Linked DNA regions of Homo sapiens. The protein of the gene in region 2 interacts with the protein of the main gene of each other region in a pairwise test. Each region holds a gene or a part of one and is shown on either strand. Other genes may lie near its edges.

Region 1 (8,177 bases), on a different chromosome or scaffold from region 2:
CAGCCTCCCAAGGTGCTGGGATTACAGGTTTGAGCCACCATGCCAGACTTTTTTTTTTTTTTTTTTTTGAGATGGGGTCTGGCTCTGTGAGTATAGTCTTTTTCTCTTGTAGGAAGCCCAGCCGGTTGTTACCAATCCATAGTACTTTCCCTGACCTCCCCAGGTCTAGGCAGAGACCCTTTTTCTGCCCCTTCTGCAAATGACCATGTTAGTTTTGTTTTTTTCCTTTTTTTTTTTTTTTTTTTTTTTTTTTGAGATGGAGTCTCTTTTGCCCAGGCTGGAGTGCAGTGGCGCGATCTCGGCTTACTGCAAGCTCTGCCTCCCGGGTTTACGCCATTCTCCTGCCTCAGCCTCCTGAGTAGCTGGGTCTACAGGCACCCGCCACGAAGCCCGGCTAATTTTTTGTATTTTTAGTACAGACGGGGTTTCACCATGTTAGCCAGGATGGTCTCGATCTCCTGACCTCGTGATCCGCCCACCTTGGCCTCCCAAAGTGCTGGGATTACAGGCGTGAGCCACCGTGCCCGGCCTTGTTTTCGTTTTTGAATTACCCATGTATTGTGTGCTTATTCATGTGATCCTCAAAACCACTCTATAAACTCCTACCTTCAGGATGTTTAGTGAGATTCAGTAACTGAGTCCCGATGACAGGAGAGCTTGAGCCCCCGGAAGGCAGGGATTGCTTTACTCATCTCTGAATCCCGGGACCCTACACAGCGATGGGTACGTAGCAAATCTTTACTAAAAATCTGTTGAATGAAGGTGTGAATGAATGACAGTTCCTCTGTGGAATTCAACTGGAAACTACCAGAACAGTGATTCTTAATTTATTCTTAAGGGGTGTGGGAATTGGGGGTGGGGGAGGGGCGGTGTTAAAGATCCCTCGAAAAGTAAAATAAAATGATGTGACTTAATTTTTCCCCAAGAAAGTATACCTATGCACGTAGGAAGCTCTACATTCAATTTCAGGGGACTCCTGGGACCCCTAAGGCCCATCCAAGAGTCTCTGCCACAAAAGGTCTTTGAGATGAGGGACTTCAGTGCTGAATTCCACTGGAGTCATTTGGGTTTGTTTCCAGGTGCAGGCATGGCAGCGTTCACCAGCCTTTTAGAGCTAAGCAGCCCCAACTGCCCATTATTTGTTCAACCCTTCTAATGTGAACAAAGGCCCCACTGCTAAGCCGGTCAGGAGGTGCTTTTTGATAAGACTTAATCACAGGGATGAAAGGGCCTATAGGGATTAAATGTCTAAGTGCTCACCCGTGGCCAGGCCAAATAAACAGGATCCAAAAGGGATTTGGCTTTTGAATACGGATGCATGAGATGTGGCCGAGTGGCCCATGCCTGCTCCATGACCACAGGAAAAAAACAAATCACAGTGTGTGAAAGCAGCTTCGTTGAAGGACATTATGCTAAGACATTCCAATTATAAGTGGGTTGATTTCAATTTTTTATTCCCAGAATTACTGTTTAACTGACTGATAGACATCAACCATATTTGGAGGCCAGGCACAGTGGTTCACACCTGTAATCCCAGCACTTCGGGAGGCCGAGGTGGGAGGATCGCTTGAACCCAGGAGTTCGAGATCAGCCTGGACAACATAGCGAGACACCACCTCTACAAAACATAAAAAAATAGCTGGATGTGATGGCACACTCCTATAGTCCCAGCTACTCAGGAGGCTGAGGTGGGAGGATAGCTTGAACCTGGGAGGTCAAGGCTGCAGTAAGCCATGATCACACCACTGCACTCAGCAGTGACAGTGAGACCCTGTCTCAAAAATCAAATCGAAACAAACCATATTTGGTATACATACTTATCCTACCCCTAAGTAGAATATCATAATAGGCATTTACTTTAGTAATGCTAAGACAACTACCATTTATGTTCTCTGGAATTATATGAAATAGCCATTTATATAGGTTAGAAATGGTCAAATATGGGCAATTCATGTGTATCAACCTAGGAGGACCTACATTTCCAGTGAATGCTTCTTGCTGAGTCCTAGCACAGGCTGGGCCCCTGGAGATCATTTAGGCTGGTTTGCTCTCTGATAGGTGGAATAACTATAGCCTAGAGGGCTTAAGTCACCTGTCCAAGATCACAAGCCTCTCAAGTTGGCCACAGTGCCTGGACTAGAACTCACATCACCCAAGCCAGTGTCCAGCACTGACTGTCCTAGCAGAGGTCACACATTCCAATAACTCACTGTTTTCATTGCTGTGACCAGTTGGCTCAACTGGGTACAAGACATAAGATCAAGACCATGATTTGAGCTTACACATGTCATTAGTTGTGCCCTGTCTCCAGGCTACAGAATGATCCCCTAATTCCAGCCATTCCTGTCATGAATGTGTGTTATTCATGACAACAGCAATCAGGACACTATTAGGAAAGTAACACTCATTTGACCCCAAAGTCCAGAGTTTTCTTTTCTTTCTTTTTTTTTTTTTTGAGATGGAGTCTCACTCTGTCGCCCAGGCTGGAGTGCAGTGGCGTGATCTCGGCTCACTGCAAGCTCCACCTCCCGGGTTCATGCCGTTCTCCTGCCTCAGCTTCCTGAGTAGCTGGGACTACAGGCGCCAGCCACCACGCCAGGCTAATTTTTTTTGTATTTTTAGTAGAGATGGGGTTTCACTATGTTGGCCAGGCTGGTCTCGATCTCCTGACCTCAGGTGATCCGCCTGCCTCAGCCTCTCAAAGTGCTGGGATTACAGGCGTGAGCCACCGCGCCCAGCCCCAAAGTTTTCTTTTCTTGAAACATGGTAGATCGCTCACATCACCTGGGCCTATAAAAGGCAGCAAAGTCTTTCATTTTTATATCAAGAAGAGAAAACAATATGATTACCTACGTTTACCATGAATCCTCCATTTTAAAAACTCTCAAAATTTTCATTCTAAGGCAATTAACAAAGAAATGAGTAAGGAAAACACAAGAAGGAAAGAAGGAAGAGTGGATGAGGAGCCAGGCCATGTACCAGGAAAATCATTCCTTTTATCATTTTCTGGAAAAGGCACATAGATAACTTTGTTACTTAATTCCTCAAAAAATAAAGAATGTGTGCTAAGACTTACCTATGCAGTGTGTGGGCAGGATGAAATTCCTTTCCAAAGCCAGGCTGTTCTGAACCTTCTTGCTGGCGTTAGCGAGCTCTCTTCTGGGTTGCACACAAGCCTCAGCCTGCTGGGCACCTTCACCTTACAACCATCTAAGCCCTTGCAACTGCAGTCTGCAATCCTATGCTTTTATGAACCCACATGTTTAATCTAATCGTATGTGGAAAGTTAAATACTAACTGGCAGTTGGAATTCACCTTGGTGCCTGATGGGGTGTGTGCCTCAGGGACTCTGGCTTTGGGCAGAGTGGCACAAGTTCCTGCTCTGGGACCCTTCCTGCCAGCTCCAGCCAGGGCAGGGCCTGGGTACAGTGAACATCTTTCCCCAGAAGAAGTCTTCCTCTTAGGGTAGGCTTGGGGGACAACAGCATTCCCTGCCAGAATACGTGGGAAGGGCTGGGTGGGGTGGCTCACGCCTGTAATCCCAGCACTTTGGGAGGCTGAGGCGGGCAGATCACCTGAGATCAGGAGTTCAAGACCAGCCTTGCCAACATGGTGAAACCCCGTCTCTACTTAAAAATGTAAAAATTAGCCAGGTGTGGTGGCACACACCTGTAGTCCCTGCTACTCTGGAGGCTGAGGCAGGAGAATCACTTGAATCCACAAGGCAGAAGTTACAGTGAGCTGAAATCATACCACGGCACTCCAGGCTGGGTGACAGAGTGAGACTCTGTCTCAATGAAAGAAGAAAGAAGAAGAGGAAGAGGAAGAGGAAGAAGGAAGAAGAAGGAAGAAGAAGGAAGAAGAAGGAAGAAGAAGGAAGAAGAAAGAAGAAGAAAGAAGAAGAAGACGATGTGGGAAGGACAGGGCCCCAGGGAGAGGAGCCAAGAACAGCCATCTCTGGGTGGTTGGTATGGGTTGAGGGGGTCAGTATAATTCCAGGCAAGTGCCGTGTTCTGAAGACGCTAAATAAGCTAGATTCTGGTAAATACTCCTCCACGGGACCACATCCAAATGAGTTTATAACAACATTGTTGTCTTGTAAAAGAGAAACGGGCTGCAAGGGTACTAAGGTACTACATGGAGGAGCTGGAAGTTAAGTCCAACAAAGAGGTTTTGAGGTTTTTGTTTGTTGTTGTTGTTTTGAAACAGAGTCTTACTCTGTCACCCAGGCTGGAGTGCAGTGGCGCAATCATAGCTCACTACAGCTTTGAACTCTTGGGCTTGAGGGATCCTCCTGCCTCAGCCTCCCAAGTAATGGGACTACAAGTGTGTACAAAGCCTGGTTAATTTTTATTTTTATTTTTGTAGAAATAGGGTCTTGCTGTGTTGCCCAGGCTGGTCTCAAACTCTTGGCCGCAAAGGATCCTCCAGCCTCAGTCTCCTAAGGCGGTGGGATTACAGGTGTGAGCCATGGTGCCTGGCCCCCAGCAAAGTATTTAAAGACCTAGCAAGAGCTAAACATACTCTATTTACCAAAAGATCCTTTTCTATCATGGTGGGGACCCTTGGAATTGGGAGAACTGAGTCTTTATATTGGCTATCATTTAGGAGTGCTTACCATGTGCTTTTATCGTATTAACCTCAGGTAATCATTGCCACAACCTGATGTGGAAGGTACTGTGAACTTAGCCAAGGGAATCAGGGCACAAGAGGTCTGATGACATGGAGGTGGAGCCATTTGGATTTGAATCCAATTTAAATGGCAGCCACGGAAGTTACACTCACTCACTCAAAATCACTTCAAGGTCATGTGGGTGGTCATTACTCTGTAACTTGTCTCATGGTTTTGTAAAAGGAAGGTTCACTTTGTTTTAAAATTGGAGTTTCACATTAAATGGTGCTCTGAACCATGTGGCTTGAAGCACACTGGGTGGCAAGAGGAAGATAGCTAAGATTTAACATGATCTACAAATTATTGCAGAGTTAACGTTATTAGGTGTATTTTAAAGAAATACGAGGATCTCTGTAACTCCGCAAAAGCTTCTCATTAACACCATTTGTCCTCATGGGTTGTCTTCACTGAACAAGATAGGCAAACTCAGCCAGGAGGAACACTTTGGTGGTGTAACTGTGTTCACCATGCCTCTGCAGAAATGGAAGCAAAACGTTCAAGTAAGAATTCCGCTAGGAGACGGTGCCACCTGCTGGTGGGAACAGGGAACTGAGGCCAATCTTCTAACTCAGCCCTTGCGGTTTAACTTCACTCTTGAATTCTGGCGCCGAGGAGAGGGGAATCAAAGCAGCGTGTTGTGCTTTGGTAATTAAAGGCAGAACTGGACGGCGATGTGTCATGGAGGCTGGCAAACCAGGTGAGCAAATTACTTACTGTCCCTGGTCTTTGGATTCTTCGTCTGTAAGATAGAGATAAGAGTTCCTGCTCATTTGGCTTGTTATAAAAGTTAAATGTGATCACAGATATATACAGCACTTAGCACAGAACCTGGCACGAGGTAGGATAGTAAAATCTATAAATTGAAATGCAGCAAAATTCATTTCTTGTTTTAATAAAAGCAAATGTAGAATGTTTTACCCATTCAATGAAAAACTAGGTGGGAAAAAACACTTTAAGAAAAAACTTTTAAACAGAAATCACCAGCCGGACATGGTGGCTCACGCCTGTAATCCCAGAACTTTGGGAGGCCGAGGCGGGTGGATCACCTGAACTCAGCAGTTCGGGACCAGCCTGGCCAAAATGGTGAAACCCAGTCTCTACTAAAAATACAAAAATTAGCCAGGCGTGGTGGCACACGTCCGTAATCCCAGCTACTTGGGAGGCTGAGGCAGGAGAATCGCTTGAACCGGGGAGGCGAAGGTTGCATTGAGCCGAGATGGTGCCACTGCACTCCAGCCTGGCCGACAGAGCGAGACTCTGTCTTAAACAAACAAACAAAACCCAGAAATCACCAAATAAGGTGGTAGAAAGATATCTGCTGTGGCATAAATGTTTGTGTCCCCCCAAAATTCATATAGTGAAATTCTAACTCCCCATGTGATATTACTAAAAGGTAGGGCTTTTGGGAGGTGGTTAGGCCAAGAGGATGGAGACCCCGTGAATGCGATTAATGCCCTTTTAAAAGAGGCTACAGGGAGGTTGCCTTCCCCTTTCCACCATGTGAGGTCGCAGCTAGAAGGCACGGTCTATGAATCAAAGAGGGAGACCTCACCAGACACCGCATCTGCCAGTGCCTTGGTCTTGGACCTGCCAGCCTCCAAACTATGAGCAATAACTTTTTGTTATTTATAAGTCATCCAGTTTATAATTTTTACTATAACTGCCCCAATGACTAAGATAATATCTGAATATATCTATAATCACAATATCCTTTAAAATAAGTACCTATTAAAAGAAGTATTATTAAACTGAATAACAAAATAAAATCTAGCTATATGCTTCTTAAAAGATAAACATCTAGGCTGGGGCTGGTGGCTCACACCTGTAATCCCAGCACTTCGGGAGGGCGAGACGGGCGGATCACTTGAACCCAAGAGTTCGAGACCACCCTGGCCAACATGGCGAAACCTCATCTCTACTAAAAATATAAAAATCAGCCAGGCATGGTGGCATATGCCTGTAATCCCAGCTACTTGGGAGGCTGAGGCATAAGAATCACTTGAACCTGGGAGGCAGAGGTTGCAGTGAGCCAAGATCACGCTGCTACACTCCAGCCTGGGTGAAACAGCAAGACTCTGTCTCAAAAAATAAAATACAAAATAAAGATGCACATCTAAAATAAAAACAAATAAAAAGTTGAAAATAAGGTGATGAAAAAACATATCAAGCTAAGGCTAAAATGCAGACATCTAAGAAAAACTGAAATTTCAGGTGATCCATAGGATATTAAATGTCACTACAATTTGATAAAAGAAACAACCTGCGAAGAAGATAGTAAAATCATGGGCTTGTATATGGACTCAAAATATTCAAAGTGAAACAGGCAGATTTACAAGAAATTGAGGCATGCACAATGGTAGGAATTAGGTTTCAGAAACTGATAGATTTTTTTAAAAAGTAAACATATAGAATTGAGTAATAGAATTAATTACCTTTATAAAATAGATGGAGAGAACCCACACCTAACCAACAAATGATGTGCATTCTTTATAAGTGTCCATAAAACGGTTTTAAAAACTCACCATGTGCTGGGTCACAAAAGAAGTCCAACCAAATTTTTAAATATCAGCTTTATGTAGACTGGGTTCCATTACTACAATGCAGTTGAATTATAAATCAGCAAAAATATAGTCTGTACACCTTGATATATCTGAAAACCAAAAAATAAGTATATCATCACGTAACATATGGATAAAGAGGAAAACACATAAATAATAAGATATTAAATTACAAAGGAACTGCCATATATTTGAAAACTTCTGGGATGCAGACAATGTGAACCTTAGAGGCAAATTTATACAGTAAATGAATTCACTAAAAGGAAAAGAGGCTGGGCATGGTGGCTTATACCTGTAATCCCACTGCTTTGGGAGGCTGAGGCAGGAGGATCACTTGAGGCCAGGAGTTTGAGAACAGCTTGGGTGACATAGTGAGACACTGAGACTCTATCTCTATAAAAAAGAAATTGTTTAAAATTATCTGGGAATGGTGGTGCATAGCTGTAGCCCTAGCTACTCAGGAGGCTGAGGTGGGAAGAGGCTTGAGCCCAGGAGTTCTAGGTTAGACTGAGCTATTATGGTGCCACTGCACTCCAGTCTGGGTGATAGAGTGAAACCCTGTCTCTAAAAAATAAAAATAAATAAAAGGAAAATAATAGGAACTCATTAAACTCAAAAAGCAAAAGAACCAAAAAATAAACTAAAAATGTAGAATAAATGAAACTTTAGAACAAAAACAGAAAGGAACAAAAGAGAAAACAAATAAAAATAGAATCAACTAAATAAAAAGTCACTCTGGAAATACAATTTGAAGTTTTGGATGAAATATATAATTTGCCAGAAAAATATAAATTTCCAGAGTCAGCCCAAGAATAAATAGAATCTCCGCAGAAATCTATTTTTTAAATGTATCAATTTAGTGGATGGATTTACCAGCAGCATAGGCAAAGCTGAAGAGAGGATTAGTGAATTAGAAATCTAGTCAGCAGAAAATATCTACAGTGAAG
Region 2 (4,065 bases):
CCAGGTGTGCCGGGAGCAGTTTGTCCGCTTGCACAGCGAGCCCATCCTGCAGGACCTGTCCAGATTCCTGGTCAAGCGGTTCTGCTCTGAGTAAGGCGCTCCCTGACCCCAACTACCTGGATTCCCCCCCCACCCCAAAACCTGGCCTCAGCCTCACCCCACCCTGCTTCCAACCCCAGGCCCCAGAAGATCTTGGAGGCCAGCCAGCTGAAGGAGACACTGCAGGCGGTGCCCAAGCCAGGTAGGCGGGTGGGCAGCCTCGCAAGGGTGGCTCGAACTGCGGGCCAGGGCGGGGCTTTCCCGCCACCCACGCCGTCCGCTCTGCTTCCTCCGCAGGGGCCTTCGACCTGGAGCAGGTGAAGCGTTCCACCTACTTCTTCAGCTGACACCCCGTGAGCCTTGTCAGTGTGTAAATAAAGCTCTTTTGCCACCCCCAGGAGCCACTGTCTTCAGGAAGGGTGCACGCCCTGCGGGTCTCGGGCAATCACACGCGGCCAGGCTTGGCGCCAATGCTGTCGTTTATTGCGCGGAATGGGGGTGTGGGGGTTAATGGGGCGTGGGGGGCCACGGTGGGGGCACTGCTGCCTCGGCTCGTCAGTACATTCATCACGGCGGCGGGACCCCAGCCTCCCCCCCGCGCCCTGCGCAGCCAGGCCTGCCTCTCGGTGCCAGTGCTGGAGGGAGGCGGGGTGCTGCTCCCCGAGGTCACCGGGGGACGCGCGCGGACGGGGGCCGGGCCGGTTATTGCGTGAGCGCGATGGGGGCAGCGGGAAGCCGGCGGGCCAAGTATTGCACTTAGAAAACGATCCTCCTCGGACGGGGGCCACCTAGAGGGTGGGGGGCGGGCGGGGCTCCACAGCCGGCTCCTCTCAGCCACTGGGCCGCCCCGTCCCTGTCTTACAGCTGGGGGAACTGAGGCACCGAGGTGAAGGGAGCCCCCTCGCACGCGAGGCCGCCGCCGGGGGCAGGGGCGATGGGGGTGGGCGCGGGGCGATGAGGGGGGACGGCCGGGGGCGCGGAGGGGGCTGCCCCGCCGGCCCTGCCCGTCCGTCCAACTACGGCTACCTACGTCTCGTCTATGGCTTCTGGGCGGACTGGCGGCCGGGGCAGCGCAATGGCATGGCTTTGGTCTGGATGACGGCCCCGCCCCCGGCCCGCCTGGGCCCGCGGGGCGGTCGGCGAGGGTCACAAGTTGGACGAGAGGCGCGAGCGCGCGGAGTCCTGGGGGTCCAGGCCGCCGGCGGCGCCGGGTGAGGCCGAGTCCCTGCGGTCCGGGCTGGGCGCGGCGGCCCGGGCAGCGGGCGTGGGCCCCAAGCGCGGTGTGGAGCTGCTGGCCGGGCGTGTGGAGGCCGCGGGGCCGGGGGCGCCGTGAGGCAGCGAGGGCTGCGAGGCGGACAGTGGGCGCGACGCGCGGCTCAGGCGGCGCGCGGGCAGGGCGGGCCCAGCAAGGGGGGCGGCGGGCAGGCCGCCGTAGGGCGAGGTCCGCGGTGCCCGGGGGCTGGCGGGCGCGCCCGGGGGGCTGGCGGGGGGCGGGGGCCCGGGTGAGGCGGCGGCAGGTGCGGGCCCCGGGGGCGGGCGGCGCACGAGGCGCGGCGAGCCGAGCGCCAGCGGCCCCACGAGCGGCCGCGCCACCTGCGGGCAGAAGCTCATGGCCGCCGCCTGCTGCAGCGTGGCGATGGCCGAGGTGACCTGCGGCGGCGGCGGCGGCGGCGGGAAGAGGCCCACGCGCTGACCCAGCTCGGCCTGCTGCACCATCTCGCGGTCGTACTTGACGATCTCCTGGATGATGGCGTTCTCCTGGTTGTTGAATACGCCCGAGTTGAGGTCATGCTGCACCTTGTGCAGGAGGATGGAATTCTTCTTGCCTGCGGGAGAGGGGGCGTTAGCGTGTGCACAGGGAGCGCCTGCTGCGTACAGCGGGCACCGAGCACCTACTCTGCACCGCGGGTGCGCACACAGTGCTTGCCGTGTAGAGCAAGCATGCATTTACCACCTACTGTATACAATAAGCACATATGTAGCATCTCTGGCCTATAGTATGGATATTGAGTACCTGCCATATACAGGCTGAGCACCTGCTATGCACAGCCAGCATGCATGAAGCACCTGCATACAGAAAGCAGGGCTTTTGTTTTGCTTTGTTTCTGAGACGGAGTCTTGCTCTGTCGCCCGGGCTGGAGTGCAGTGGCGCGATCTCGGCCCACTGCAAGGTCCACCTCCCGGGTTCACACCATTCTCCTGCCTCATCCTCCCGAGTAGCTGGGACTACAGGCGCCCGCCACCACACCCGGCTAATTTTTTGTATTTTTTTTTTAGTAGAGACGGGGTTTCACCATGTTAGCCAGGATGGTCTCAATCTCCTGACCTCGTGATCCACCCACCTTGGCCTCCGAAAGTGCTGGGACTACAGGCGTGAGCCACCGCGCCTGGCAGTAAACAGGTATTTAATGCCTGCTGTGTACATGGAGCAGGTATCACTGTGCACCAAGTATGCATGTGTACCACCTGTATACGCTGATTATGTAATGACTGCCTCCAGTGTGCCACAGGCATACCGAAAACACCTGCCTGTACACAGCCTGTGCTGAGCACCTGCTGTATACAGAAGTTATAACCTAAGCACCTGATACTCAGGAACGGGTTGCATACTCACTGTATAGAGCAAGTTGTGGAGAGCTTCCTACTGTACACCAGGGAGCTCCCTGACACCACTCCGTCGCACCTGTCCTGCGTTTCAGCCATGGTCTTCATTCCCATTCCCACGAACAGCAGCATGAGCCGCCATCTCTCTGGCGCCTACATCCAGTCATCAGGGCTCTGCCCCTCCCTGCCCCAGAGACTGCCCCCCTGAGAGGCCAGGTCACCGTCTCCCTCCTGGACACGGCCCGCCTTGGCGGATACAATCTGACCAGGTCCTCCGCCCACCTAGAACCCTCCATGGCTCCCTGATGCTCCTGATTTAGTCTAAACTCTCCCTGCCGCCCACTGGGCCCTGTGTGTCTGGCCTCCCCTTCTTCCCCAACCTCCTCCAGGCCTCCCTGGCTCTCTGGACTCTAGGCCTCTTTTCCACCTCAGGGCCTTGGGATGTGCTGTGTCCACTCCACGAACACATCTTCCTCCCCGTTTCCACATGGCATCCCTTACCCTGGTCTCCACTCTGCATTCCCAACTCAGGGAAGCCCACCGGCCCCACCTGCCCTGCTGGCACACAGCCCAGTCGTGTGTGATTTCATCACCAGTCCATAAGCCTCCCTGGGAGTCTGAGTGGGCCCCCGGGTCTGTCCCCTGCACCCCCAGCACACAGCAGGTGCTCACCGAGCATTCGGCACAACCGCAAACACCCTGTGCATTCCCTCCCTTGGGAAACAGGCTGCCTCTGGCTGAAGTAGGACAATAGGTCAGAAAATCAGCCTCTAGACCCAAAGGGGTCCTAGGAGCGGCCAGCCGCTGCCCCTGCCCCAGCCACGCCCCTGCTGCCATGGCCACACTCCTGATGCCTTGGCCACGTCTCTGCCCCAACCGTGCCCCTGATGCCACAGCCACGCCCTTCCCCCTGCCACTGTCCAAGCCACTCTCCTGATGCCTTGGCCACGCCCCTCCCCCGCCAGGGCACCCGCCCCGGCCACGCCCCCGGCCCGCTCACCGATGCGGTCCAGGCGGTCGATGGCCACCGTCTCGAAGGCGCGCCGCATCATGGGGTACTCCTCCAGCACCTCGTTGAAGTTGTCCACGCTCAGCGAATAGAGGCGGCAGTAGGTGTCAGCCCGCACGCTCGCCGTGCGGCGGCCCCGGGTGAGCAGGCAGATCTCTGCACGTGGCGCGCAGGGGGGGGTTGCTGGACGAGGCGGGCGCCGCGGCCCTCCCCGCCCAGGCACACGGCCCGGCCTCTGCACCTTGGCCAGCGTGGGCGCTTCCCACCCAGGCTCTCCCTGGTGCCGGCCCCGGCCCCATCCCCGGCCCCATCCCCGGCCCCATCCCCGGCCCCATCCCCATCCCCGGCCCCATCCCCATCCCCATCCCCGGCCCCATCCCCATCCCCATCCCCATCCCCGGCCCCATCCCCAT

Evidence for each region.
Region 1: the proteins of HCN2 (region 2) and KCNE2 interact in a two-hybrid assay, tested with the Homo sapiens proteins (one study listed by BioGRID).

The regions. Positions count from the first base shown.
Region 1 is NC_000021.9:34,359,051-34,367,227, reverse strand, and holds the start of KCNE2 (potassium voltage-gated channel subfamily E member 2), read right to left. Parts: upstream 3,223-8,177; 5' UTR 3,077-3,222; intron 1-3,076. UniProt on the Homo sapiens protein: Ancillary protein that functions as a regulatory subunit of the voltage-gated potassium (Kv) channel complex composed of pore-forming and potassium-conducting alpha subunits and of regulatory beta subunits.
Region 2 is NC_000019.10:613,595-617,659, reverse strand, and holds the end of HCN2 (potassium/sodium hyperpolarization-activated cyclic nucleotide-gated channel 2), read right to left. Parts: intron 3,809-4,065; coding exon 3,644-3,808; intron 1,866-3,643; coding exon 1,186-1,865; 3' UTR 501-1,185; downstream 1-500. Other genes in the region: POLRMT (DNA-directed RNA polymerase, mitochondrial isoform 1 precursor), read left to right, coding at 5-90, 180-241, 337-386. UniProt on the Homo sapiens protein: Hyperpolarization-activated ion channel that is permeable to sodium and potassium ions. Displays lower selectivity for K(+) over Na(+) ions. Contributes to the native pacemaker currents in heart (If) and in neurons (Ih).